4 linked regions of the Homo sapiens genome follow. The protein of the gene in region 3 interacts with the protein of the main gene of each other region in a pairwise test. Each region holds a gene or a part of one and is shown on either strand. Other genes may lie near its edges.

Region 1 (7,432 bases), on a different chromosome or scaffold from region 3:
CACGAGGTCAGGAGATTGAGACCATCCTGGCTGACACAGTGAAACCACATCTCTACTAAAAATAGAAAAAATTAGCCAGGCATGGTGGCGGGCATCTGTAGTCCCAGCTATTCAGGAGGCTGAGGCAGGAGAATGGCGTGAACCCAGGAGGGGGAGCTTGCAGTGAGCCGAGATCGCGCCACTGCACTCCAGCCTGGGCGACAGAGCCAGATTCCGTATCAAAAAAAGAAAAAAAAATTTAGCCAGGCAAGCTAAATTAGTAGGTGGCAGGCCTGTGGTCCCAGTTACTTGGGAGGCTGAGACAAGAGGATAGCTTAAGCATGGGTGGTGGAGGCTACAGTGAGCTGTGTTCCTGCCACTGCATTCCAGCCTGGGAGACAGGGAGAGAGAGAGAGCCTTTTTTTTTTTTTTAAATTTTTTTCTTTTTTTTGAGACGAGGTCTCGCTCTGTCGCCCAGGCTGGAGTGCATTGGTACAATCTTGGCTCACCACAACCTCCTAGAATTGCTAGGTTCAAGCAATTCTCCTACCTCAGCCTCCTGAGTAGCTAGCATTACGGCAGGCGCCATCACACCAAGCTAATTTTAGTGTTTTTAGTAGAGATGGGGTTTCACCATGTTGCTCAGGCTGGTCTCAAACTCCTGACCTCGTGATCCGCCCGCCTCGGCCTCCCAAAGTGCTGGGATTACAGGCGTGAGCCACCGCGCCTGGCCAGAGAGACCCATTTTAACCACACAAGGACCCAGCTAAAAAACTTCCCCTGGTTCTGTCACCATCAGAGGAAGCCTGAGCTCCTACATCTCTGTCCTGCACTTTTTCACTTTAGTAACGACCCTCCAGGCTCGGTAGCTGATGCCTGTAATTTCAGCACTTGGGACGCTTGAGGCAGGAAGATTGCTTGAGTGCAGGAGTTTGAGATCAGCCAGGGCAACACAGCAAGACAACATCTTTACAAAATATTTAAAAATCAGCTGGGTGTGGTGGCACGCATCTGCAGTCTTAGCTACTCGGGAGGCTGAGGTGGGAGGATCACTTCAGCACAGGCAGTTGAGACTTCAGTGACTCGTGATCGTGTCACTGTACTCCAGCCTGGGTGACAAAGTGAGACCCTCTCTCTCAATAAATAAATTAATAGGCACCTCCTTGTAGTTACTGGCCTCCTCTCCTTTGATTCCCCCCTCTCCCTCACTCCACCCTGTTAGTCTGAATGTTAGTCATTCTTCAAGACACATGCAGAAAGTATTCCCTGATCCCTTCCAGGCTCCACACCCAACAGCATGGCCTAAATGCCCGGCTCCTTCCTCGGTGCTCCATCTTAGCTCACATTCCTTACCACACTGTTTTGAAAGTATCTTGACTGTCCCTTCTCCTCAACTGGCTAACTTCTAGAGAGCAGAAACATGACTGCTTGGAAGGTCATTAAAAATTCAAATCCTGAACATTTCTTAATCCTGCGGATATGAATCAGTGACTCTTAAAAGCAAAATGTTATTTATCATTAAATATTAACAATATAATCACATTTTCTTGCATCTCTGGCAAGTTTCTTGGTACAACAATTTTAAGGAACAGACTCTTAGTTTTTTTTTTGAGATAGAGTCTAGCTCTGTCGCCCAGGCTGGAGTGCAGTGGCACGATTTCGGCTCACTGCAACCTCCGCCTCCCGGGTTCATGCCATTCTCCTGCCTCAGCCTCCAGAGTAGCTGGGACTACAGGTGCCCGCCACGATGCCCGGCAAATTTTCTTTTTCTTTTTTTTTTTTATTTGTAGTAGAGACGGGGTTTCACCGTGTTAGGGAGGATGGTCTCAAGCTCCTGACGTCATGATCCGCCTGCCTTGGCCTTCCAAATGCTGGGATTACAGACGTGAGCCACCGCACCCGGCCGGAACACACTCTTTAACAGCAGTTAAAGCCGCGCAATGGCTCACGCCTATAATCCCAACACTCTGGGAGGCCGAGGCGGGAGGATCACTTAAGGCCAGGAGTTTCACACCTGCCTGGGCAACACTGTGAGATCCCATGTCGAAAAAAATAATAAATAAAAACAAAGCAGTTCTAGGTTTAGAGGGGGGAAAGCAGCTCTCCAGGCCAAAAACCAACTCCCAAGGTGCTCCGGTAAACTCGTCCTGGGAAAATTTCCTACCTAATCTCAAAGGCAAAACGAGCCCACGGGCGCCCACGACACATTTCCCAACCGCAAGGATTGGTCACCCGCGCTGAGACACCGCCAGCTGCCTATGACCTAGCCTCCAAAGCGGCAGAGTCCCTCCCTCTCTCTCCCTAAACTGCCGTGATGGGCATCCCTCGGCTCTCCTCCCAGACGGTTCGGAAGCAGGGACTTCTGCTCCTAACCCCGGCCCCGCAGCCTCGCCCTCAGCCACGGGGTGGAAGTCAGGACCACAGGCTTCAAATCCCCTCCCAACTCCGGGACACTTCTGCCCCCTAGGGTGACGTGGGATCAAGTCCCCGCGCCCCTGCCGCGGCCGGGGGCTGTGGTCTGGGTCCGAGCGTCCCATACCAGCGCTTTCCGGGGAGGTTGTGGGAGGGGCCCCGTGCGACCACAGACGCTGCTTCGGAGCCAGCGGCCTGGACGGAAGGTGGGAGCCGGGGCGAGGGGAGCCGCCGGAGAGGGAGGCGGCCAGGAAATGCTCCGCGTCAGGCCGTCGGGGCTCGGCTGGCGCTGGAGATCCCGGCAACTAGCGTCTGGGACGGAGAGGCCGCACTCTGAGGATTAAGGGAGCCGAGGGCGGCCTGGAACGGGGAAGGCGGCGCTGACGGAGACGGAATGTGGGACGAAGGACAGCGGGAGGCACCGACGCGCAACTGCCCCAGCCGCGCGGATGGCACGGACCGACCGCCCTGCCACCCCCAGCCCGAGACGCCCCGCCGCCCCGCTCCTGTAGCTGAGAGCCGAGCAGCTCTCAGCCCCAGTCCGTCCGCTCCGTACCTCGCCCGCGTCTCCGCCGGCGTCCAAACCACCGCTCGCCCGCTTCGCCCGGGTAGGTCTGGGCTCCGCGGCCAGCTCCCGCCTCACACCCACCCTCCTGCTCGCCCCGCCCCCGGCACCGCCAGCGAACGCACGTTACGCGCGGCGCGTAAACGTCACTTCCGGGGCCTTTGACTCTGGACGGGAGGAAGTGCGAGTGGATCCAAAGGGTCGAGCGGAGTGGGGTACCGCCCTGACGCCCAAGAGCAAATGGAAGAGGGCGGCCTCCGGGGTAAAGGTGGGGCGCTGGGGAGCCCCGGAGAAACCGGCGTTTCCTAGTCTGTCGCTCAGTCCCTGCTTCCGGCTTCCGACGCGCAACAGCTGGAGGGCGACGCTGGCTCCGCGGCGACTCCTGGGGCTGCGGCCGCGGTGGTAGCGCGAATGGGAGGTGGAGCGGAGCTACTGCGCCGAGGGACGCTTCAGAAACTCTGTTTCAGTCCTTCGCGGATCCTAGGATGTGACAGGTGTTCGAGTTAAAAGGTCTTAAGGCGATCGGTTGATCCAAAAGCAGCTGAATCTTTAGGAGGCCCAGGCAGGAGGATCGCTTGAGTCCAGGAGTTCGAGACCAGCCTGGGCCACAGAGCAAGGTCACCATCTCTACAAAAGAAATTTTACAAATCAGCCGGACATGATGGCGGGCACCTGTGGTCCCAACTACCAGGGAGGCTGAGGTGGGAGGATCGCTTGATAGCCCAGGAAGTTGACGGTGCAGAGATCCCTCCACTGAACTCCAGGCCGGGTGACAGCAGAGCGAGATCCTGTCTCAAAAAAAACATAACCGACATCCAGAAGTGAAATAAATTAGCCAGTGTCACAAAGTATTAATGGTTGAGTCACAAATTGAATCCTGTTTACCTGATTCTTTACGTGATTCCCATGTAAGGAATGTTAAAAACAGTAAATACTAATTCCTCTGCGTCCTGAATGCCATGTATGGCGTAACGTGCAGTCACAGCAAGAAAAAAAAGAAAATACTATGCTGTGGCTGTGAGATAGACCTGGGTTAAAATCCCAGCTTTGCTAATTGTCGCTGTAGTGTTCTTGGACAGGTTGCGTAATTTTTCAGTCTATTTTTTTTTTTTTTTTTTTTTTTTTTGAGACTCTCACTCTGTCGCCCACACTGGAGTTCAGTCGTGCGATCTCGGCTTACTGCAACCTCCGCCTCCTAGGTTCAAGCGATTCTCCCACCTCAGCCACCCAAGTAGCTGGAATTACAGGCACCCGCCACCACGCCCAGCTCATATTTTTTTTTTTGTATTTTTAGTCGAGACAGGGTTTCACCATGTTGGCCAGGCTGGTTTTGAATCCTGACCTCAAGTGATCCGCCCACCTTGGCTTCCCAAAGTGCTAGGATTATAGGTGTGAGCTACTGCGCCCGGCCCGAGTTTCTCAGTCTTTATTCATTATTGGTAAAGTAGGGATTAACTGATTCGTTTCTCAGATTCTTCCTAAGTGCCTAATGTGTGCTACGCTGAGGGTACAACAGAGTATAAAACAAAAGTAAGGCCAGGCGCAGTGGCTCACGCCTGTAATCCTAGCACTTTGGGAAGCCGAGGCGGGCAGATCACCTGAGGTCGGGAGTTCAAGACCAGCCTGACCAACATGGAGAAACCCTGTCTCTACTAAAAATACAAAATTAGCCAGGCATGGTGGCACATGCCTGCAATCCCAGCAACTTGGGAGGCTGAGGCAGGAGAATCACTTGAGCCCGGGAAGCGGAGGTTGCAGTGAGCTGAGATTGCGCCATTGCACTCCAGCTTGGGCAACGAGTGAAACTCCTCCTCAAAAAACAAAACAAAACAAAAAAACACAAAGTACCTGTGCTGAGGAGGTGGAGGAGGGAATAAACAATAATTATTTACAGTAGTACCTTGGATGGTGGTAATTGCTATTACCAAAAGACAGAATAACATTTACTTTAAAGCTCTTAACTGACTTTTGTGATTACAGAATCAGGCAACACACCATTCTATAAACCATTCTGTGAAACAGAATGAGTGTTTCTTTTTTTTTTTTTTTTTTGAGTTAGAGTCTCACTCTGTTGCCCAGGCTGGAGCACAGTGGTGCAATCTCGGCGCACTCCAGCCTCCAACTCCCTGGCTCAAGTGATCCTTCTGCCTCCACCTCCCTAGTAGCTGGGATGATAGGTGTGTGCCAGCACACCCAGCTAGTTTTTGGGGTTTTTTTGTAGAGACAAGGTTTTGCCATGTCGCCCTGGCTGGTCTCGAACTCCTGGACTCAAGCAATCTGCCCACCCCGGCCTCCAAAAGTGCTGGGATTACAGGCATGAGCCTAGACCCCTGGGCCCAGAATGAGTGTTCAATGGGCTGAGCAGAAGAGGTTGGTGCTAAAGACAGAAAAGGCCTGAGGAAAGCAGTAACAAAAACTGAATATCATTTCAAAGTTTCTTTGTGAAGGTTAAGCTAGAGAGGACTGGCCGGGCATGGTGGCTCACGCCTGTAATCCCAGCACTTTGGGAGGCCAAGGCAGGCTGATCACCTGAGGTCAGGAGTTTGAGACCAGCCTGGCCAACATGGTGAAACGCCACCTCTACTAAAAATACAAAAATTAGCCAGGTGGTGGCCTGTACCTGTAATCCCAGCTACTCTGGAGGCCGAGGTGATAGGATCACATGAGCCTGGCAGGTTGAGGCTGCAGTGAGCAGTGATCATGCCACTACACTCCAGCCTGGTTGACAGAGCAAGACCCTGTCTCAAAAAAAAAAAAAAACAAAAAAAACAAAAAACACAACCAAGAAGCTTGCAGCTTTAAAATAGACCGGAGCGGCCTCATGAGGTGACCTGAATAAAAGATGAGGGAGCCAGCTGTGCTGCTATGCAAATATCTGGGCAAGAATGTTCTAGGCACCGAGCAGCAAGAGGGAAGACCCTCCTGACACCGCTAACCTGTTTAGCAGTAGCAGGCTGGGGCACGGTGGTAGGATCATGGCTCACTGCAGACTCCAACTCCTAGGCTCAACCAATCCTCCCACCTCAGGCTCACAAGTAGCTGTGACTACAGGCAAGTGCCACCATGCCTGGCTGCTATTTTGCTGTTGTTGAGAATGTGTTTTTCCACGTTTTAGTGTTAAGTGACAGGAACAACAGAGGTTTTTTAAAAAAGACTTTCCTTGGCAAAATTAAAGGAGAACAGCACTATATCAGTCTTTCATCTTTTTTTTAATTGTTTTAAACTACTGAAAGAAGTCTGGTAACCACTGCTACACACCATGCCTCCTTCCCATGGCAAGGCTGAGCCCCGAAATCCGGATCTAAAGGTACTCTCCATATTGTTTTAGACTGCCCCCCCCTACCCAGTCTCGTATTGCGTAGGATAGCCAGGTGTGGTGGCACACGCCTGTAGTCCCAGCTATTCAGGAGGCTGAGGGGAGAAGACTACTTGAGCCAGGAGATTAAGGATGTAGTGAGCCATGATGGCCCTGGTGAAGAACAGCCACTGCATTCCACCCTGGGCAATAGAGCAAGACCCTATCTCCAAAAAAACAGCCCCCAAGAAACAAAAAAACACCTAAAAATTAAATAAATACTGTAATACCAGCATTTTGGGAGGTCAAGGTGGGAGGATTGCCTAAAGCCAGGAGCTTGAGACCAGTCTCGGCAACACAGCAAGATTCTCTCTCTCTCTCTCTCTCTCTCTCTCGCTCTCGCTCTCTCTCTCTCACTCTCTCTCTCTCTCTCTCTCCCCCCTCATATATATATAATGATGATAATATCACCCACATCAAGTAAGAGCAGTGGAAGCCCCAGTGCATCAGCACATATATATATTTGTGTGCGTGTGTGTGTACGTGTGTGTGTCTGTATACGTAGGTGTCTGTGCATGTGTGTATAATTAGATAAATAAAAATAAAACTTTGTTTTGTTTTGTTTTTTGAGATGGAGTCTCGCTCTGTCGCCCTGGCTGGAGTGCAGTGGCGCAAACTTGGCTCACTGCAACTTCTGCCTCCTGGGTTCAAGCTATTCTCCTACCTCAGCTTCCTGAGTAGCTGGGATTACAGGCGCAAGCCACCACACCTGGCTAATTTTTGTATTTTTAGTAGAGATGGGGTTTCACCATGTTGTAGTGAGCTGGTCTCAAACTCGTGGCCTCAAGTGATCCACCTGCCTCACCCTCATCACCTGCCAAGTCCTACCCATTCTAACCCTGATAGCTCTTAAATCAGGTCTTTCCACCTCAACCTCATTATCACTGCTCTAGAGCTCAAGCCTTCAGTGTCCTTTCACTTCCTGAATTTACTGTCTTAGTGCTCTTGCTCACATTGTATTCTTTGCCCAAAATGCTCTTACCACTCCCCTTCTTCTTCTGTCTATAGGGCAAGTTAAATGGCCCCATATAGTGGTATAGGTTGTTCACTGCACTGAGACTATCCATCACCACCTCTACCTCATATGTGAAAGGACTTTTGCTAAAGGAACATTCCTGTCC
Region 2 (6,306 bases), on a different chromosome or scaffold from region 3:
CCCCTGGAGGCTCCAGAAGAAACATAGCCTGCTGAGAAAATGCCAACCTCCAGAACCGTAGGAGAGTCAGCGTGTGTGTGTGTGCATGTGAGCGTGTGTGTGCCTGTGTGTGCATGTGTGTTTGTGTGTGTGCATTGCATGTGTATGCCTTTGTGTGCATGTGTGCAAGTGTGTGCATGTGTTTGTGTGCTCATGTGTGCATGTATGCATGCACGCGTTTGTATGTGTATGTGTGTTTGCATGCTTGTGTACCTGCGTGTGTGTGCATGTGCGTGTGCATGTGTGTGCGCATGTGTATGTGCACGTGTTTGTGTGTGTGCATGCTCGTGTGTGCCTGTCTTTGTATGCATATGTGCATGTGTGTATGTGCCTGTGTGTGTGTGTGTGTGTGTGTGTGTGTAAAGTTTGTGTTCTTTCCATGACCCCCAGGTTTGTGGTCATTGGTTACAGCAACCACAGAGACATAGTAACATGAATGTTGACAGCACGGAGCAGCAACCCAGTTTTGACCTGGTCGATGGTTTTCTGGGACCATTTTATTGACTATTACACCTGTTTTAGCCCATGTGGATATGGCTAAAGAGTGATGGACCCAGAAAAAGAAAAAACGATTGGGAATTTAATGATTAGACCATGGAAAATGAAGTGGTTAGATCCTTCGTGTGTGGTGAGTCTTTAATTCCTGGAAGTTAGAGTCCCGGGCAGTTGTGTCCCCAGCTGCAGACACTCGGTGTACATGCTGCAGGGCGGCATCCTCACCCAGCCACCTGCCCTGTGCTCCCCGCAGCTGGGCTGGTGGACGATGGGTCCACAGATGGGAGTTACAAAGGCGAAAGCCGGAGGGAAATATTCCGGGATATAAAAGTGCGTCTCGTGCTTCTACAAATCACATTGGGTGAGACTAAGACGCCTCTGGAAACAGCAGCATCTCCCAGCCTCTGCACATGGTTTCTGCCTCTCCACTCTGAGGTTATGACAACATCACCGTGGCTCTCAGTTGCCTGAGATCCAGTTCCTCCAGTTAAATGCTGCGTTCGCCCCGTGGGTCAGGGTCTTCACCGGTGGGTTCACCAACTCCCATTTTCCTTCCTCTTTATTTTCTTCACAGAAGCACATGCCCAGGGAAGGGATCTGGAACAGAGTTTTAAATCACTTGTTAATATCTTATAGCAAGTCCATCAATTTCAGACTAGCTCCAAAGCCAACTGTCAGGCACACCTCTACTTTGGAGGGTCTGCGACTGCCCAGGCTGGCACTGCCACCATTGAATGGCACCAACATCTGCCCTGGCGGTGCCCCGTGGGGGATGTCCCCTAGCCAGGGGACACTGGGTAATTCCGGAGACATTTCTGATTGTCACAACTGAGGATGGAGGTGCTGCCGACACCTAGCAGGTAGAGGTCCTACAAGGTGGTACATCCTACAATGAGTAGAACAGCCCCCACCACAAAGGTCTGCAGGCTGAGGTGGAGATTGCCATCCACCACTTAAGGAGTGACTCATATTCTCATATTCAGCATCACAAAAAGACACAGACATTGAGTTTTCAGACCCAAAAGAAAAGCACAAAGTGAACCTTTAGACCTCCATCCCTTCATCTGTGAAATGGATGTGTGAGAACAGAGCTTTGTGGTGAAGCCTTTTTTGTTTTTGTCTTTTCTTTTCTTTCTTTCCTTCCTCTTTCTAATGTCTAGAAATTCCTCAGGCAGATGAAATTTACAAAAATGCCAACTGGCAGGGGGGTCTGAGTGAGGCTGGTGTTGACCCTAGGGTGATTCTTTCCTCACGCTTGCAGAGGCTGTGGGCGAGGGGCGGTGATGGGCTGGTCGGGGAGGGTCCTGAGTGCTCCCTTTCCAGCTGCCCTGATTTGGGGGCCCATCATTTGGTAGAGCCCCCCCTTTGTATTTTCTGATATGCATGAGCAAGTCCAGCTTATTTTGGGGTAGGGGCAGGGTGAACGCCACGTGACCAGCATAAGAAAGTCCAGGAGTTTGGAAGTTCAAGATTGGCATCTATGGAAGGGGGTGAAGGGTCCAAGGAGTGGGTGGAGCTTTGGCCACAAAGGCTCATGGGTTTGAGGAACTGTCAGCAGCTGGTGTGTGCAGTGCTGCCACCCTTGGTTACGTGGGCCCCCAGGAGCGCCTGGGGCTGGAGGCTTGGTATGTGTATATGGGACTGTGGGAAGCGGGGCAGGGACAGGAGGAATGCATCAGAGCGCATGTGTGGGAGACCCATTTGCAGAAGCAAGAGCAACATTTTGGGAGCAGGTGGTGCCGGGGCTGCCCCGGACAGTCCCCAGGAAAATCCATGCAGACCTCTACCAGTGTGGCCCAGGGGGGTTGAGCTGCCCTATTTGGACAATGCTCACCTGGTGGCTCAAGAATCCAGGGCGCTCGGAAATGTCTGGATCATAATTGGGACACACCACCCTGGAGACATTTTGCAGGGGAAGCATGTTTCTACTCAGGTGCAGAGGAAAATGGAGCAAGAAAGGGAGATTCGGGTGTCTGATGCCTAATTGCTGAGTGACAATGACCCACGGCAGGCATGCTCTTCATGTGCGTAACCTCTCATCTGGCTGCTGAGGCAGGCGTAGCTAGAGAGCTAAGCCCTCCTGCAGGCACCTGGCTGGTGTCACTGGGCTGGGCCCGGGAGTTGGGCTCCTCTGAAGCCCCTGACCTCTTGGGGGGACTCAGCAACCCCCACTGCTGCCCACAACTTATGGCAAACAAGCTGTGGCCAGTGTGGTCCTGTGGCAGTGCTATGTGAAGAAACCAGGTCAGGGCCTCAAGCACCTCCGATGACAGGCATTGTCTATGCTGCACGTGCTGCCTGGGCACTGACCAGTGGACTGATGAATTTCATAAAAAGGTCAGGACTGTGGTGAGTCCAGCCTTGAGTAGATCTGCAGGGAAGGGCTGGGACTGGGGTGGGATCTGCACTCCTGAGTTTGCCTGCCTCAATTCACCCATGGACTGGACATCACCCTCTGGCTTTGCTGAGTGATAATCAAGGTTGTCCAAGATGTCACGTGTGCGTTATCCTCTGTTTGTCATTCACAAGGCCCTTGCCAGAGCCTGAGCACTCTGGCAGCTACAACCAGCTCAAGCTTCTTCCATGCTGGGTGACTCCAAGGGCAAGAGGATCAAGGGGCTCCTTTTCATCCATCAGCCGCCCTGCCCCAGGTCCCCAGAAGAGGCCAGAATCGAGTCCCACAGTCGTTTCTTCCCTCCTCATCTAAACTGCTTACTCCTTCCTGGACCGTCTGTTTTTCTACGAGAGCTGCAAGGGGTCATGGCATGAGCTGACTGGTAAAAAGTTGGCAAGTGGCCAATGATGATGAGGTTGACTGACCTATCCACCAGCCCCAGCCCGAAGTCACCCTTCGCATAAGAGCCGGTGGGCACAGTCTCCGGGGGCACGTGGATCCTGGTGGCCCTGGGTCAGCCGGACACTTGTTTTCATTCCGAGAAGTGGATGAGATAAACCTGTGTCTTCGGGATGCTTGATTTTGTGGCCCAAAGAGCCAAGAGTGGGCGCGTACCTTTCTCACGAGTTGGGCAAAATCCCCACATTCCCGGGGCGGCAGCCCGAGCAGTGGCCGCGTGCAGGAGTCCAGAGTGGAGCCGTGACTCACAATTAGGATGACACCCGCTGTGGAAAACAAGAACACCTCCAGGTCAAAGCAGCCCCAGAGAGCACCTTTTATTAGACTGGGGTCCCCAAAGTGGTGGGGGGCAGAGCTATCTCAGAGTGCCCCGAAGCCTGGCGAGACCCCCGGGCTAGAAGTAGTGTGGCTGGTAACCGCTCAGTGATGCCTGCGTCCCACCCTCGCTCATGGATTCCTCTGCACGCAGCAGCTGCCCACCAGCCTCAGGGAGGCCTAGGAAGTGAGCTGAGCCACCCCCTGTGGTCGCTGGCTGCCTGGGCCCCGTCAGCCACAGACTGGGATGTAGCGGTGGCTGACGCCCAAGCCAGACCTGATTCACTTTAGAAAGGTCAGCCGGTTATTTTGTCACACGAGCCTGCTACGACTCCTGCTTTAGATAAGAACACCTGGAGACCACAGGCCGAGTGGGTCTCCCTCAGGAGACACGCTTGTCCCTGCCAGCTCAGGGGAAGGCGTGGGAAGTCAGCGCTTCTGTGCATGCTTCATCCAGGACAAAGCAACACGGGAGGGTTAGGAGACCCGTGTGATGGGTCAGGGAAGGGGGCGCCACCTGGAAGTTGGTTGTTCTTTCTCTCTCTGTCTCTTTTGTTTCCCAGGAAGCTGACTCAAATCCCTTGGACATGGGTGGATTGTGTGACCCTGCTGGCCTGGGTCCCATCAGCATTCAGTCCCAGGATGGGGGGTTCCAGGGCCTGGGCGGCAGGGGAGTGTGTGTCTGTGCACCCGGTTACTGCACCAGCAGCAGCAGTGATGAAAACTTTGTTGCTGGAGAATGGTGGGGGGCGGGCAGGGGAAGTGGGGGCATTCATAGGTTCAGAAAATCGGCCAATTTCCATCTCAGAGATCATTCCCCTCCCATCAGCACTCAGTCCCAGGATGGGGGGTCCCAGGGCCTGGGCGGCAGGGGAGTGTGTGTCTGTGCACCCGGTTACTGCAGCAGCAGCAGCAGTGATGAAAACTTTGTTGCTGGAGAATGGGGGCGGGGGCAGGCAGGAGAAGTAGGGGCATTCATAGGTTCAGAAAATTGGCCAATTTCCATCTCAGAGATAATTCCCCAAGCCCCAGGGGCTGTTCATACTGAGGATGGTGAGGCACTTACTGTCCTGTGGACAGGTGTTGACGATTTGCACCATGCTCGCCGTGCACCTGTCCATGTACTCCTGGTAGCTCTCGGCCGGCATGAGGGCGGACAGGGGAAACGCGGGCCTGGAAGGATGAGAAGGAGAGGCTGCTGCCCTGGCACTTTCGTAGGGATTAGGAAGGCTCAGCTGCAGTTAGCTGGGGAAGGAGAACGTTCTTCCAGGATGGCTCTGCCTCAAGGCAGGCTCATGGTCAACAGGCAGGCTCCAGTTTTGTGCTGAAAACTGGCAAAGCACTGACAGTCAATCTCCAGCACACATTCTTACTCAACACCAGGAGGGCTCTGTGATGGCAGAGTCAGACATGGGTGGAGAATGACAAAGACTCTCTCCTTGACTAAACTCCAGTCCAGCTCCTCTGAACCTTCTTCTCAATGAGGTCTTGACCCTTGGGCTTCTGTGTCTGTTCTTGCAGAGTGAGTTTAGCAAGAACCTCCTACCTTCGACATCTGATCAAGTTCCTTATCCTCTACCACCCCCCAGGTGATGTCTGATCACCTTGGCCTGCCTTCAGCAAGAGTCTCCATTTAGGTCAGTTTAGCAAGAATGACCCACCTTCTCAGGAATTTTCCATCCACTGACCCCCACCCTGCTCTGTGGCTATAACTCCCCTCTTTTCCTTGTATTAGGAGTTGAGCCCCACCTCTCTCCCCTGCTGCAAAACCCCACTGCAGTGGTCCCTCTTGAATAAAGTCTTTCTTACCATTTTAACAGTGTCATGAAATTTTTCTTTAACAATAACTGGAAAAGCCCCAGTGGCAGAGAACTTTAGAACAGCATACCTGTAATCAGTGTCAATGTTGAAATTTGCCTCTTTCAGCTCTTCCAGGCTCATGAGGGTTGGGGTGGTTTTGCCAGCTTCCCATTTTGTCCATTCAAAGATTCCAGGTTCCACTCGTATCTTGATTTTTTTCTCCAGTTTGAGTTCTGGATTCAACAGAATACAAGTGTTTATCATCCTCAACATCCACCCTGACTTTGCATAAATAAGTCTCCTTTTAGATCTCAGACCGTCACACACACGTCTAAATCATGCCTTTTAAACAGTGTGATTTTCTTCTTGGCAAATACCGTTCTGTGATTAGGCATAGCTGTGCTATTTCTGAAGTCAAAACTGACGAGCAGTGGGAAGGTATCAGAGGAGTGATGGCCCCCTGTGTGCCAGGAAGGGCCAGAGTCTTCCAGGAGCTGGTGAGTGTCCCAGGCAGCAGGCTTAGGCTGGGGCTCACCTGATCACCCAGCACAGCTCCACCGTGAAACCAGCCCACCGGCTGCATCCTCCAACATGGCAGATCCAATGATCAATGGACAAGATGTGACCCATCATGAAGAATGTTGGCCTCATGAGGCACTTTCCTGATAAACACTTACACAGACGGGGCAAGAGGTGAAGAATGGAAGGAGCCATCTTCTGGAATATTCTGACTCCCTGCAACTCACATTTCCCAGGCATTTTATATTTTGATTAAAGGAAGAGCCATAAAGTAAGGCCATCTC
Region 3 (7,626 bases):
AAATAACTCATGGCTCCAGAATTACAGTTGAGTCAGTCAATCTAAGCCAAATGGCCAAACTACACGAATTTATTTTGGGAACAGGGAATTGTCAAGGGGGATGTGGATGAAGATGGTTAAAATTAGAGTTGATGTGTAAACATTTGAATCCAGCTACCCTTATGATTCATGTGTGTGAAGGAAAACTGTGGTGTTTATTGATCCTCTGTGGATTGACTGTATACATTACACCTCTTCATAACGTAAAGACTCCTTATGTGAATATGCCAGGTTGGCAGACTTGACAATGAGATATGGGTTTGTGACAGTAGGCACGGAAATTCATCATTCTGCTAGTTCCCCGCTAGAGTGAGGATCCATATCCTAGAGAATCATACAACCTTAGTGCTGAGAGGTGGGGGGTTGGTGGTGAACAAGCTGGATTGAATGTTGTACTTGGCAATATTTGAAAATAACTCTAAATAGAGTATCTTGCTAATGGTATTTCTTTCTCTAAAATTCATTTAAAAAATAGTTTATAGAATTCAAAACTTACTGAGTGTCTAATACGAATGGGGCACTCTAGGATATACAAAGATGAATGATATAAAATCTTTGCCCTCAAAGAGTTTTTAATTTAGTGTAGGGGCACAAATGCATGCAAATAATGACAATAAAATATATGGCATGATAATTTAATTCCATGAAAATCCATTGAGAGCTCATCAGGAACCAGCCCTGTGCTATAACAAGGACAGAAAATATTACAAAGGAGCAAACAAATTAATTCTGATTGGGAAGACAGGGAAAGAGTTCTTGGAGGAAACAGCATTTAATCCAAGGTCACACAACCAGTAAGTGATGGAGCTGGGATTTGGTTCCAGAGTCAATCCCCATGAATGCTATGCTCTACCAGCTCCCAGTATGTGGAGCTTAGAGTAATGTAGTACCATGGAGATGAAGAAGTACAAGTAGCCAGTTGTGGCTAGACCAGGGGTTTGCTACCCTGCTTGTGCATCAGGATCTTTGGGGAAGCTTTAAAAATGTTAATCCTCAGGCCTCACCCCTAGATATTGCTTTCCAAGTAGTCTTAACACACAGTCAGGGATGAGACTCACTGGGTTGAACTCTGTGGCTTATTAAGGGGAGGCAAAACTGAAAAGGTAGGCTGGACCTAATCTGGGAGGTAGAGATGCCATGCTAAATTATGCATTTCAACTTTATTCTATAGGTAAAGAAGAAGCTACTGGGGAGGGAAATGGTAGGATCAGAAGCATTTAGTAATTAGCTTGATTTAATCACTGCACAATGCATACATTATCAAAACATCACTTTGTACACTGCAAATATAGATATAATTTTTGCTTGTCAATTATATTTTAATAAAGCTGGGGGGGGGTGGAGAAATATTTAGACTGATTATTTTGCCTGCAGCATGAAGGATGGGTTTGAAGAGCAGATATTGAAGGCAAGAGCAGAAGTTAGGAGGGCTATGCCATCCCAAGGAGAAGTGAGGAAAAACTCACCTGGGGCAGCAGAAATGTAAAGGAAGAGTCATATATGAGAGACATTGCAGAAGTAAACTCAATAGGCCAGGCGTGATGGCTCACGTTTGTAATCCCAGCACTTTGGGAGGCTAAGGCAGGTGGATCACCTGAGGTCAGGAGTTTGAGACTGATGAAACCCCATCTCTACTAAAAATACAGAAATTAGTTGGGCGTGGTGGTGCACACCTGTACTTCCAGCTACTAGGGAGGCCAAGGCAGGAGGATTGCTTGAACCTGAGAGGCAGAGGTTGCAGTGAGCTGAGATCGCGCCACTCCACCCCCATCTGGATGACAGAGCAAGACTGTCTCAAAGAAAAAAAGGAAGAAAACTCAATAAAACTTGTGATTAGTTAGAAGGAAGAGGCAACAAAGAGGGAAGCATGGAAGACTGATGCTGTGAGCATGCAAGGGCACACTGGAGAGGCAGATTTGAGAATGGGAGAGGATCAGAGTTTATGTTGTCTTACAGAATTTGAGGTTCCTAAGGAACAATCTTGTGGAGGTGTCAAATGGGCAGTCCTGAAATTTGAGTCTGTAACTAATGAGAAAGACTAAAGCTAAGCTGGCTGTCATTTAAACACAGGTGAAACCTGAAATTTCAGCATTTGGTTGAAATCATTAAAGAAGAGAATGTCTGGAACTACACACACACACACACACACACACACACACACACACACACACACATATATATGAAATAAGAGGGCTTCAGAAAACACTTAAATTTAGGGAGTAGATGGGGAAAAGATAAATGCCAGACTTGGAAGAAGATGGAGCAAGAACATGAAAGAAGAAACCAAGAGGGCACAGGAGAACTGAGAAGAGCATTCTAAGTGGGTGGATAATCAGTAATGTCACATGAGTAGGCTGAAAAAATGAAGCTTTTGTCTTTGGAAAGTCACTGGTAGCTTTGTAGTTAAATAAAGTGGAGAAAGTAGAAGACAGGCCACAATGAACTGGACAATGACGGGGAGATGAGGATATGTGGGCAGCAAATGTGGAGATTTCCATTAAGAAGTCTTGTGGAGAAGAGGAGAAATGAATGGGACTGTAATATGAAAGTTAGGTCAAGGGAAGTAAGGTTTGTTTTGCAGGGGAAAGTTGAGTATATGTTAAAACCAAAGAGACAGAGTTTATGGAGAGGTATAACTTGAAGTTAACAAGATGCAGACAGGGTGCCGTCTCTCACGTCTATAATCTCAGTACTTTGTGAGACTGAGGCGGGAGGATCTCTTTTGACTCCAGGGGTTTGAGACCAGCCTGGGTAACAAAGGGAGACCCTGTCTCTACAGAAAAAAAAAAAAGAAGTAAGCTGGGTGTGGGGGGCACACACCTGTAGTCCCAGCTACTCGGGAGGCTGAGGTGGGAGGATCACTTGAGCTGTGGAAGTTGAGGCTCCAGTGAGCAGTGATTGTGCCACTGCACTTCAGCCTGGGCAACAGAGTGAGGCCCTGTCTCAAAAACAAAGGCCAGGCCCGGTGGCTCATGCTTGTAATCCCAGCACTTTGGGAGGCTGAGACAGGCGGATCACCTGGGGTCAGGAGTTCAAGACCAGCCTGGCCAACATGGTGAAACTCTGTCTCTACTAAAAATACAAAAAATTAGCCAGGTGTAGTGGCAGACGCCTGTAATCTCAGCTACTCGGGAGGCTGAGGCAGGAGAATCACTTGAACCCAGGAGGCAGAGGTGGCAGTGAGCTAAGAGTGCGCCACTGCACTTCAGCCTGGGCAACAAAACAGGGCGAGATTCCGTCTCAAAAAACAAAAAACAAACAACTTTAAAAAACCCCAAAAACCAACAAAACAGAAAACAAAACAAAACAAAAATGCAGGGGTAAAGTGATGGAGTCAATTCCCGGAGGGTACTGAAAAGGACTAATTCAAGAGAACTCAATGGAACTCAATGGAAAGTCGCCCTTCTTTCTCATAGAGGAGAGGGAAGGAGAGAGAGAGAGGAGAGAGGGAGACAGACAGAGACAGAAACAGAGGAGAGAGGGAGAGGAGGAAGAAGAGAGAGAGACAGAGAGAGAGAGAAAGAGAAAAAGAAAGCCGGTAAATTCTGCTGAGGGAAGCTGTGGGAGTTGATAATCGGGACCCTGAGTGGAGTGGGAAACGTCTGGAGCTGCATATACGGAGAGGCGGTAGAGTCAACTAGGGATGAAAACGAGGAATTAAAAAAAAAAAAAAGACTGATCTGGAGGGTCCACCAAGGAATTTCCTTGTAACGGGTAACAGCTGTAATATGACATGTTGAAGTATTAACACTGATGACTGCTGTCTACATTATTTTCCATGTGCATGAATTGAGTAGTTACAGGGAAAAAGCGAACTGCCTGTTCCAAACGGCTTACACAGATGAACTGAAGCGAAGAAGAAAAATGAACTTTCTTTTGATGTCAACAAGATAGAGTATCATTTACTGTTGAAGCCAGGTTATACTGATTATTTTCGATCTGGTAGTTAACTTTATCATCATTACATTTGGCTGAGTCATTCCTGGGCCCTAAGTAGAGACGGCTAGAATTACCACGTGAGTAAAACATTATAATATCAAAATAATTAGATTGGCCACAAAAACTACCACGGAAAGATACTGCGTAGCAAAAACGTTGGCAGCAAGTTCCAAAGCCTTGGCGAGGACAAGCAAGGAGCGCGCGCGTGCAGCCATACCTGGGGCCCGCCCAGCGCAGCCGAGCGCGCGGAGAAAGGCCAGCAGCAGCCCCGCTCCCGCCAGGCGGGCGGACGCCGGCATCCTGCGGCGGAAGCACGCGGAGGCACAGCCAGGGCCTCCGCCCTTTGCCAGACAAGGGCACACCCCAAGGTCTGGGAGCGTCGTTCTCAGAAAAGTACAAGTTCTTCTTTGAAGGAGCTCCAGAAAAGCCTCTCCCGCCCCTCCCCGGCTCCCCAAGGGCAGGGCTGGACCGAGCTGCAGAGTTGGCCGGACACTGACTGGGTCAAGTGACCTTGGGCTGACCGCACCCCCACCCCCGGTCGCCCCGGGTCGCTGGTGCACTGCGCCTGCGCGCGTCTCCCCGAGGAGTTCGCGGCGAGGGGCGGAGCTTGGCGCGCCAGTGCCTCGGTTTCCAGGCACCGGGAATAACAGAAGCCAGCTGAGAGCGCCTGCGCGGCTGTCGGTTGATGGGGAGGTCAGGTCTGGGAAACTAGGCCCTGGGGTTTTCCCTGAGCAGGAGCGGTGCCCGAGGGCCTCAGGTACGCAGAAGGGCGGGGAGACATGGGATCAGCACCTCCACCTCCTAAGGGACCGAAGGGCAGGAGAGCGAGAGGACTTGTCCCCAGAGGTGGAGTCCGAAGTGGGGGCGCCCCAGTTGACCCTTCGGGACAAAACGTGACTTCAGCCTTAAGGATCTAAAACCGGCCGCGGTCAGGTCAGGTGGCCCTCAACGCTCAGGTTACAAAACTTTTACAGTCTGCGCCACGGGGACTCCTGGGATGAGGGTTTGACAGCCAGGCACCTGCTCCAGGCCCTAGCAGCTTTTGTGCTCTTTGGAATCAAGCACGGTTCCAGCAGGAGGGAAGCCCTGAGAGTTCTTTGTGCCAGTCACTACCTCTGGGCCACAGCTTTCTCACCTGTAAAATGGTGAGGCTGGACTCTGCGGGAACCCTTCAGTTTACAGGGGAAGAAACGGGGGCCAGCAAGGGAGAAGTCGCTTGTCCTGTTACAGGCCTAGAACCTGACTTTCTAGTCAGGTGCTCTTTCCACCTACTATAGAGTATACTGTGCGTGGCAGAGGCTGGTGCTGGAGGAAAGGAAAGCTAGGTGGCAGGAACACCTGTAGCACCTTCGTTTTTCTACCCTCAGGGCCTAACACAGTGTCTTGTGCATAATCACTCACCAAATGGTTTTTGAAGGGAAGCTTTGGCAGGTCCAGCAACACTGTCCCCAGAAAAGTTTAAGGGAATGTGGGCAGGGCAAATGTAGAAATAGTTTGCTTTAGCAGCCGAGAGTGAACCTCAGACAAACTCTTCCCGTGTATCTGGTTTAAATCTCCCGTAGGCGTCAGTCCAGGCCCTGAATGGCTGGTCTCCAGCGGTTGGCGTCACATCTGCCTGTGGGCGTTATGCTCCCACATAATACAACGGAAGCTCCAGGGCCCCACTCAGCCAAGCAAGACTCTTACGAACAAGGTGACTCTTCCCAGCAGTCCTTGAAGGGGCACCTGAGGAACAATTTCCAGAAGCAGCTTTTGAGCAACAAAGAGTTGATTCTGGATAAAGTCTATACTCACCCCAAATGGAACACCCAAACAAAAGCCCGGAGCTACTCCTATCCCCACTGTACTGGAATCAGCCAGCAAGATCCAGAAAGTGATTCCCAGGGCCAAGGAAATGGTTTGTTTTACTCGTCAGGCCCTCAATCCTGGTATCCCAAAGCCAATAACCAGGACTTTATCCCCTTTACAAAGAAACGAGTTGGAGTGGACCGGGCGTTCCCATTGAAACCCATGGTCCACAGGAAGTCGTGCAGTACAGGTGAGGCTGGCACTGATGGGGACCATAATGTCTACCCAAGGCCCCCTGAGCCGAGAGAGTTTTCATCTAGGAACTTTGGTGTGAGGAACCAGGGCAACTTTTCTGTGGTTGGTACTGTTCTTGCTGCCACGCAGGCGGAGAAGGCCGTGGCAAACTTTGACAGGACGGAGTGGGTGCAGATCCGAAGACTAGAAGCTGCAGGGGAGAGCTTAGAGGAGGAAATCCGAAGAAAGCAGATTCTCCTGAGGGGAAAGCTGAAGAAGACAGAGGAGGAACTCAGAAGGATCCAGACGCAAAAGGAACAGGCCAAGGAAAATGAAAACGGAGAGCTACAGAAAATTATACTCCCCAGGAGCAGAGTTAAAGGTAATAAAAGCAACACCATGTACAAACCTATCTTCTCCCCAGAATTTGAGTTTGAGGAAGAATTTAGTAGAGACAGGAGAGAGGATGAAACTTGGGGACGGTCTCAACAAAATTCAGGTCCATTCCAGTTCTCTGATTATAGAATCCAGAGGCTCAAAAGGGAAAGGCTGGTAGCAAGCAATAATAAAATTCGAGACCCAGTCTCAGAGCCATCGGTGGAGAAATTCTCCCCGCCTTCAGAAACACCAGTCGGTGCTTTGCAGGGATCCGCCAGAAATTCCAGCCTGTCCATGGCACCAGACTCCTCAGGTTCCAGCGGCTCCATTGAAGAGCCACAGCTGGGTGAGTGCAGCCACTGTGGGCGCAAATTCCTCTCGTTCAGGCTGGAGAGACACTCCAACATCTGCAGCAGGATGCGGGGTTCCAAGAGGAAAGTGTTTGACTCCTCCAGGGCCCGGGCTAAGGGCACAGAACTAGAGCAGTACTTGAACTGGAAGGGGCCAGCTTCAGCCAAGGTAACAAGAGCCTTATGGATGTGACTTGGTGTGGTGATCATTGTAGGGGTCTGTTTTGTCATCATCAGTTTTCTTTAGGGAAAATTCATGTGTCATGTAGGAAGAATTGACGTCTAGAATTAACATTTCTTGATTACTACTGTATGCCAGCATTGTGACGGGAGCTTTTCATGTGATCTCCACATTATCTCTCATTGTATCAGTTCAAAAATCAAGACTTGGACAGGCTAAGTAACTTGCTTGAGGTCACAAACAGCTTTAAGTGGCAGAGTCGGCATATAAATCTTGGTTGGAATGACTAAAAAATCTAGACATAGAATTTGTGTCCTTTGGATTATAAAAGTAATAAAAGTTTACTGTAGAAAATTTAAAAGACACAAAAAATCTAAAGAAAAAAATGCAGCCTTTTGTCACCTGGAGAGAACTCCTCACTCTTTGCAATGTATTCTGCCACTTCCCAAGACTAGGATCTGTGACCATTCCTTTAACTATTCACTCTTTTAAGGTTAGCTCAGTGTTAACATAGCTTCTTAGTAAATAGATGAAACACAATTAAGTTTGGAATTCTTTTTCTGCCCATTTAGAATGTAAACACCTTGAAGGTAAAAAGGACTTTCTTTCTGGTTATCTTACAAACCATGCCCTTGCCAATTATTTCTCACTTTAGAAAAACCAGGTTGGAAAAAGTAAGGGTTTCGTGACACTTACATGATAAATTTAGGTGAACTT
Region 4 (7,023 bases), on a different chromosome or scaffold from region 3:
AAGAAGAATTTTCCATAGGGATATATGGAGTGGGCATTACTGAAGTGAAGAACTCCAAGAGAAAAGATGGAAGCCAGTCCAATTAGAGAGTTTAAGTTGGACCACAGAAGAAAATGAGGCGTTCCAAGCAGCAAGGGGAACTTGGGGAACTGTTCCAAAACTGAGCATTCACCCTTTTCTCACTGCTGAGAACCGGGTGTCCCTGGGTTCCAGCGTCTCGGTTCTTCCTCCCCATCTACCCCAGCCGGAGCCCAGAATCCTCACGTTCTCTTTGCTTCACTCTGCCCATAAAAATCAAGCAGCCAATAAACCATTTCACACAAAGATAGAAACGACTGGCGGAGTGAAATACTGTATATACTTTGTGAAATTTCAGGACCAAGTGGATCATCGTGTAAGCAAGGGAGGCCTAATGATACCTATCAAAACAAGAGCCTGAATTAAACAACAACCCAACCCATGGGTCAAAGAGGAAGTCACAGACGAGATGAGAAAACAGTCAAGAGTTGATGAAAAATCAAAATGTGTGAGATGCAGTTAAAGCAGCATTCTAGGGAAAAATGTTTCAAATCAATAGTCTAAACTTTCATCCTAAGAAACTTAGAAAAATAACAAATTAAACCAAAAGCAAGCAACAATAAGCAAATAAGAAGCAGAACTCAATGAAATCGAAAACAAAAACGAGAGAAAAACATGAATAAAATCCAAAGATCAAGTAAATTAATAAAGCTCTAGACAGAATAAGAGAAGACGCAAATTGCCAACATCAGGAATGAAAGAGAACATATCAGCCGGGCACAGTGGCTCACGCTTGTAACCCAAGCACTTTGGGAGGCTGAGGCGGGTGGATCACCTGAGGTCAGGAGTTCGAGACCAGCCAGGCCAATGTATAGTGAAACCTCATCTCTACTAAAAAATTACAAAAATTATCTGGGCGTGGTGGCGCATTCCTGTAGTCCCAGCTACTTAGGAAGCTGGGGCAGGAGAATCCCTTGAACCAGGGAGGTGGAGGTTGCAGTGCACCAAGATCCCGCCACTGCACTCCAGCCTGGACAGCAGAGCAAGACTCTGTCTCTCCAAAAAAAAAAAAAAGAAAGAGAAGACATCACTACATATTTTACTGACATGAAAAGGATAGTAAGAGACTATAATGAACACCTTTATGCCAGTAATTTGGATAACTTGACATATTTTAAAAGTCACAAATAGCAAAGATAACCTATCGCCCTTTATCTGTCAAGCCCAGAACCTGTCTCTGGAATCAAAAGACCTGGATTCAGATTCTGGATCTTTTACTTAATAACTTTTCACTGAACCTTGGCATCCCCATCTGTAAAACAGAGATAATCTATCACTCTCTGGGCAGTGAGAGGAACCAGGGCGGTAATACACCTGAAAGAGGTTATGCGTGTATACGTGATTTATAAACTGTCGCACACTTCCCACTCTTGCTAGTTGCCATTAGGATGATTTCCAAAGACAGCTTTAGAAAGACGGATCTGAATGGTGAAAGTCTGGGACACGAATGGTTGAGGAGCTGGCTGCTGGGTCCTCCCCTGGGCTAGGCTCCACCCTCATTTAGCAAACATTTCCTGGGGTCATGCACAGCATTGGGCCAAGCCCTGTGGGGGCCAAGGACAGTTCCGAGACACGCCCCAGCCCCTCACAGTTTTTTGCTTTAGGAAACCCAAGGTTTGCACTAAGTCTCTCCCAACCCCTGCGCCCTCCCAGCCCAGCCCCACTTGCTCTTGTCTCTCCTGCTCACCTCCACATAATTAGCAGGGAAGATGCCCAGGCGGCCGTGGTGCTCTCCCTCCAGCCAGTTCTTGTCCACCTCCTTGTGGATGTAGACAATGTCACCCTTCTGCAGAGTCAGCTCCCTGCAGGTGGGGACGAGGACCGCAGGGTAAGCTGAAGCCTTCCCAAGCCTCCTTCCCTTCAGACCCTGCCCAACACACCCCAGTTCTCTCACCCCTTGGGGATGCCCACTGCAGCCCAGTCCCCCTCCCCATCCCCCTCTGGGATGGCAGAGATTGCCTTGGGTGGAAGGGGAGGGGGAGGAGGGCGCTTACTTGGGGGACTGCGCCTGGAAGTCAAACTTGAGCCTGGCGGCCTTTCTCTAGGCAGGGGAGAGGACAGAGTGGGCTCTCTCAGTTGGGCGGGTGGCAGATCCAGGATGGCAGCCTTGGGACCACTCCAGGTCCCCCACACCTGGTCCCCTCCTTACCTTCTTCTCTTCCCTCCTGGCTGGGCTGCCCCCTCCGTTAGAGGCACTAGGGTCTGTGGAGAAGCACAACCTCAGCTTGGGGAGGCCATACCTGGGGGATGGGGTTGCACCCCCACCTAGGGCAGGCACTGGCAGAAGCAAGGGGCTCTGTGACCTGCCACCCCTGGGGCACCAACATGCCTGGTGGGTGGGCATCTCCGTGAGAAAGAGAGCAGGGCTGGGTCCTTACCTCGGGTTGAGGAAGGGTAGACAAAGTCCCTCCGACCTAGGAAGGGGCTTCCTCCATCAGCCATTTTGTGGGGACTCAGGGACCGGGCGGAACCCAGGTAAGGTGCATGTGGGTAGCTGGAGCTCCAGGCTGAGGCCGGGCTGCACGGGGCACAGAGACTGAGCCTCCAGCCTGGGGCTCCGCACCCCACCCTGGTCACCCCTAGACCGCTCTGACCCCCCATCGCCCCCATCCCTGCCACCTCCTCCCAGGGCGTCTCCCGGGTCCTGGGCTCTCCACAGGATGTCCTACTTCCCGAGTCGCTGCGCGGGGAAGGGTGAGGCCCGGCAGGGCCCAGCGGGAGTGCCTGGGCCGTGGCGGGGCCGCCCTAACCGCGCTGCGCCCCCGGCGGCCGCGACCCCGGTCCTCTGCTAGGAGTTAGCTGCCCTCGGTGGCGCGGGAACGGCGCCCCGCAGAGAGTGGCGCTGCGGTCCCTCCCGGACACGGCTCTGCGGTTCCTTCCTCCCCCGGCTGGGCCCCGCGATCGCCCCCGTCCGCCCCGCCCGGCCGCGCCACGTTCCCTCCCGCCCGGCCTGGGACAGCCCCCTTCCTCCTCCCGCGTCTCCCACTCACCCGGCCGGGGGCCGCTGCTCCGGGGCCCGTCGGGGCGCCGGCGAGCTCTGCGCGGGGAAACGGCGCAATCAGGGCCCGCGACCCCGGGACCCAGCGGCAGCCGAGGCCGCCGCCTCCGGAAAAGTTCGCGGCTCGGGAGGGGAGGAGAGCGGGCGGGACGCGGGGTCCTAGAGGCGCCCGCGCGGCCGATCCCGGGAGCGGGGCGGGAACTAGGGGAAGGGGCGGGGGTCCCCGAGGCTGGGGCCCGGGGGCCGGACGGGGCGGGCGCCCGGTCGTCGGGCTGACGTGGAGTCCGCTTAGAAAGGCTCCTCGGGGTCACTTGCGAAAGTCGACGCCCTGTATTTTATTTATGGAGGAGCGAGCCCGCCAGCGCCCAGGAGGGCCCGAGGCCGGTGCGCGCCGCTGGAGGCCGGACCTCGGCTGCCCGTCCTCCGCCCAGCCCAGCCGCCGAGGCTCCCGGCTCGCCCCGACCCTGCGGTCGCCGGCGTGCCCCGCGGGTGAACCCTGGGGGCTGGTACCTTGGGGGACGGCAGTCGGGTCTCAATTGCCCGCAGGTCCTTGTCCAGCTCGGCGCTCAGCTCGGCCAGCTCTCTCTCCAGCAGCACCTGGGGGCGGGGAGAGGCTGGGCAGTGAGGGGCAGCGCACCGTGGGGGTGGGAGGCAGCGGTCAAAGATCGACTGTGAAAAGCAAGGCCAGCGCACCGGGCCGGCGTAAGGGCAGGCCTCAGCGCACGGGCCGGGCTCCTGCCAGGAGGTGTGGCCCAGGGTGCCAAGAGGGCATCCCCGCCACGGCCTCTCACCTGCCCAGCACGCCCCGGGAGTGCCTACGCGCTTCCTGATCCCGCGATTCCGCAGTCCTGCCAGTTTCTGCCAAGTTGTGTCTCTGTTACAGCACCAATGGGGTTCCCCATTTCCTCTCCCATCTTCTCCCGCCCTCCAAGGCCTGGCTTCACTGTGCCCATCCAGGTTCCCCCGCCACCCCAGGGACCGGAGCCCCCACCCCCACGCTGCTTCCTGCCAGCCTCTGCTATGGGTCTTCGCCGAATCAGGCCCTCGGAGCTTCTCAAGGGTCCAGCTCCACCTCCAAGAATATTTCCTGATAATCCCAGTGCGCACTGACCACTCCCTTTTCTGCTCCTGCTTTGGCCAACACATATTTATTTAACACATGTTTACTGAGCGCCTCCTGTATGCCAGCCACTGTCCTGAGTGCTGGCATTACAGAAATAAACCATGTGGGACTGGAGAGAGAGCTCTTAGTTCGTGGCCTATGCCCATGGTTACTGGGGCCACCAAAACCCTAATCTCCCTGGTTTATCAGGCTGCTGTCCCCAGCACCCTGCAGCACTCACCTCAATGGGCTGGGAGGGCTTCTCACCAGGGTCGTCCACCAGCGGTTTCTTGGGCTGAAGGGTAGAAAGGGTGTGTCAGAGCAGGTGAACTCACTTTCCAAAATGTATCAGCTGAGGGTGCGTGCACACCCCGAGAGCCAGCCAGCACTCACCCTCTGCCCAGTCTCTAGTTCCTGCAGAAACTGGTTCCAGGACTCTTCCGTCCAGACATTGTCTACTTTTTCCCGGCGTCTGAGCACCTGCGTGGAGGTGGGTGGGTGTCAGCTTGTGAAGAGGGCTACTGGGACACTGGCCAGGCTCAAAATGCAGGCTTGCAGGCCCCTGCCCTTCCCCTGGGCCCACGGTGTCCTCCAAGGGATTCAAGCTGAAAGGACATCGTGGCATAGGGTCTTGGCCATACGGCATACAGCTGGGGCTGACCAGGGACTATGCTGGGTGGGCTACCTGATTTGAGGGCTGCAGCACAGTGGAGAATGCTCCAGGTCTGTAGTTGAAGGTGCTTCTAGGTAACTCTTCAGAGTGGTCCCAGCTTCTTCTAAAGAAAGGGAAGGACATCTCTTCAGCTTCCTTTTAGGGAGACTGAGGCAGAAGCCAGCACACAGCCCTCTCACCCTGCCCTTGTCCCTGCTGTGGGGTCTACTCTGCCTCTGACTGCCCTGCCGTTACTCTGGAAGCAAGATTAAACTGTGGAAGTGTGTGAGCTCCAAGCTTAAATTCCAGCTCTACTGTTTAGTGGATGTGTAACCTTTGAACAAGTTACTGATCCCTCAGAGCCTCAGGCTCAGAACCTGTAATATAGAAATGATTTGGTGAGAGAACATATATGAGGTGCCCGGGAGAAGGCCTCACACACATATTTGCTCCAGGTGTGGCCCGACCCTCTCCTGTGGGCCTTTTTGCTAAAGTGTCCTGTATGTGTGTTTGGTCTGGCCCCATGACTGTGGCTATGTGCGTCTGTGCAGCTTTGAAGAAGCTGGTCTTTCTGGGTGCTGTGGCTGAGTGATCGTACACCCATGGGCAAGGAAAGCCAGAGGCAGCTCTGCCCTGCAGCTCTGGCCAAGTTATTTCTGCTCCCTGGGCCTAGTTCCATGAGGGTGCTGGATTCAGTGACTCTGTCTGTGAGACCACCCCAGCCACTGCAGTACAGCATGGACACATCTGCCTTAGCTCCCCTCCAGGGCCCCTTGCTGGCTGGCTTACATGGAATGTTCCAGCCTCTGTTTGAAAGTTTCCACTGAGAGGAACCACTGCATCAGGCTTATCAAATAATACAACGTCTGACCAAGGGTTGGGATTTGTTGGCTGTAATAATGACTCCATTCTGATTTTGGTAATAATAAAAGTGACTGTGAGAATGTCATTCCTAACCTAAGGAAGCAGTAATCATAATTTTTTTTTTTTTTGATACGGAGTCTCGCTCTGTCGCCCAGGCTGGAGTGCAGTGGCGCAATCCCGGCTCACTGCAAGCTCCGCCTCCTGGGTTCATGCCATTCTCCTACCTCAGCCTCCCGAGTAGATGGGACTACAGGCACCCGCCACCGCGCCCGGCTAATTTTTTGTATTGTTTTTAGTAGAGACGGGGTTTCACCATGTTAGCCAGGATGGTCTCGATCTCCTGACCTCGTGATCCGCCCGCCTCAGCCTCCAAAAGTGCTGGGATTACAGGCGTGAGCCACCACACCCAGCCTTGTAATCATAATTAAGCCTGTATATTACTAATGTTTGTGCAGGCTTGCTATGTGCAAAACATGATGCATGATACACACATGATCACACTGAACCCTCTGGGCATTACCACTTAAAAGATGGGGACACAGAGGCTCAGACTGAGTGAGGTACCCACAGTCACATGGCTAGTGGCAGTGCACAGGCTTAAACCCAGAACTCAGCGTCCAAATCTTGAGCCCTTTGCCTCTGAACCTTATCGGTGATGCCCAGAGCTACGGGCCAGTTTCAGCCATGCTAATGAGACGAGTCCTTCCCTGCAAGGGAATAAGAAACTCAAGGATTTAACTCTGAGAGCAAAGATCCTGATTCCCACGGTGGTGCTGACCCCGCCAGGGCCCCAGCAGCCGGGCGGAGCCTGTGGTTTGCACAGAGGAAAGGAATGTCATCCTTATCCCTCCAAGGGGCTCCTCTCTCTGTGCTATCAGGCTGGAACTTGGGTTCTTCCATATCCCTTGTTTTCTCTCAGGTTTCAAAGTGGACAGCGCCAGGTCCAAGTTCCCCTCAACAGTTCTGTCCACGGCTGTCCTGGCCGCCCCACTCCCGGTCTCATAAGACCGGTGGGATCTTTGGGGCAAAGAGTTCCTGCTGCTGACCACAAACGCATCACAGGCGTTCCTGGCCAGGAGCGGGTGCCAGGTCCACTCTTGCCTACCCTTCCCCCCTTGACCCTGTAGGGAAGAGAGTCTATGGGGGTGGTGGAGACCCAGAGATGGGACAGAGCCCAGACGGACACGGAAGTGAGACCCCACTCCTGGCTGGGCTCCGAGGCTGTGCCGGCTGTGGTCACGAGGGGGCGCCCGTCCCATGGTGTCTCGCGGGCCGCGCCCCTCCGCAGCCCTCGGCCCCGCCCCACTGTGCTCACCCACTGGAAGATGT

What was found.
Region 1: the proteins of ZC2HC1C (region 3) and RABGEF1 interact in binary tests that used the Homo sapiens proteins (3 or more experiments, as listed by UniProt).
Region 2: the proteins of ZC2HC1C (region 3) and UBASH3A interact in binary tests that used the Homo sapiens proteins (3 or more experiments, as listed by UniProt).
Region 4: the proteins of ZC2HC1C (region 3) and SORBS3 interact in binary tests that used the Homo sapiens proteins (3 or more experiments, as listed by UniProt).

What each region holds. Positions count from the first base shown.
Region 1 is NC_000007.14:66,736,308-66,743,739, reverse strand, and holds the start of RABGEF1 (rab5 GDP/GTP exchange factor), read right to left. Parts: upstream 3,008-7,432; 5' UTR 2,948-3,007; intron 1-2,947. UniProt on the Homo sapiens protein: Rab effector protein acting as linker between gamma-adaptin, RAB4A or RAB5A. Involved in endocytic membrane fusion and membrane trafficking of recycling endosomes. Stimulates nucleotide exchange on RAB5A. Can act as a ubiquitin ligase.
Region 2 is NC_000021.9:42,441,882-42,448,187, reverse strand, and holds the end of UBASH3A (ubiquitin-associated and SH3 domain-containing protein A), read right to left. Parts: intron 5,737-6,306; coding exon 5,592-5,736; intron 5,035-5,591; coding exon of another isoform or gene 4,986-5,034; exon of another isoform or gene 4,883-4,985; intron 4,877-4,882; coding exon 4,770-4,876; intron 3,655-4,769; coding exon 3,545-3,654; coding exon of another isoform or gene 3,355-3,544; intron 1,132-3,354; coding exon 994-1,131; 3' UTR 504-993; downstream 1-503. UniProt on the Homo sapiens protein: Interferes with CBL-mediated down-regulation and degradation of receptor-type tyrosine kinases. Promotes accumulation of activated target receptors, such as T-cell receptors, EGFR and PDGFRB, on the cell surface.
Region 3 is NC_000014.9:75,065,015-75,072,640, forward strand, and holds the start of ZC2HC1C (zinc finger C2HC domain-containing protein 1C), read left to right. Parts: upstream 1-4,626; 5' UTR 4,627-4,735; exon of another isoform or gene 4,736-4,934; intron 4,935-5,540; 5' UTR 5,541-5,559; coding exon 5,560-6,897; intron 6,898-7,626. Other genes in the region: ACYP1 (acylphosphatase-1 isoform c precursor), read right to left, coding at 4,196-4,277.
Region 4 is NC_000008.11:22,561,918-22,568,940, reverse strand, and holds part of SORBS3 (vinexin), read right to left. Parts: coding exon 7,010-7,023; intron 4,955-7,009; coding exon 4,864-4,954; intron 4,659-4,863; coding exon 4,572-4,658; intron 4,474-4,571; coding exon 4,420-4,473; intron 4,133-4,419; exon of another isoform or gene 4,068-4,132; intron 3,935-4,067; exon of another isoform or gene 3,868-3,934; intron 3,674-3,867; coding exon 3,587-3,673; intron 3,213-3,586; exon of another isoform or gene 3,116-3,212; coding exon 3,069-3,115; intron 2,953-3,068; exon of another isoform or gene 2,698-2,952; intron 2,597-2,697; coding exon 2,457-2,596; intron 2,281-2,456; coding exon 2,228-2,280; intron 2,120-2,227; coding exon 2,073-2,119; intron 1,881-2,072; coding exon 1,766-1,880; intron 1-1,765. UniProt on the Homo sapiens protein: Vinexin alpha isoform promotes up-regulation of actin stress fiber formation. Vinexin beta isoform plays a role in cell spreading and enhances the activation of JNK/SAPK in response to EGF stimulation by using its third SH3 domain.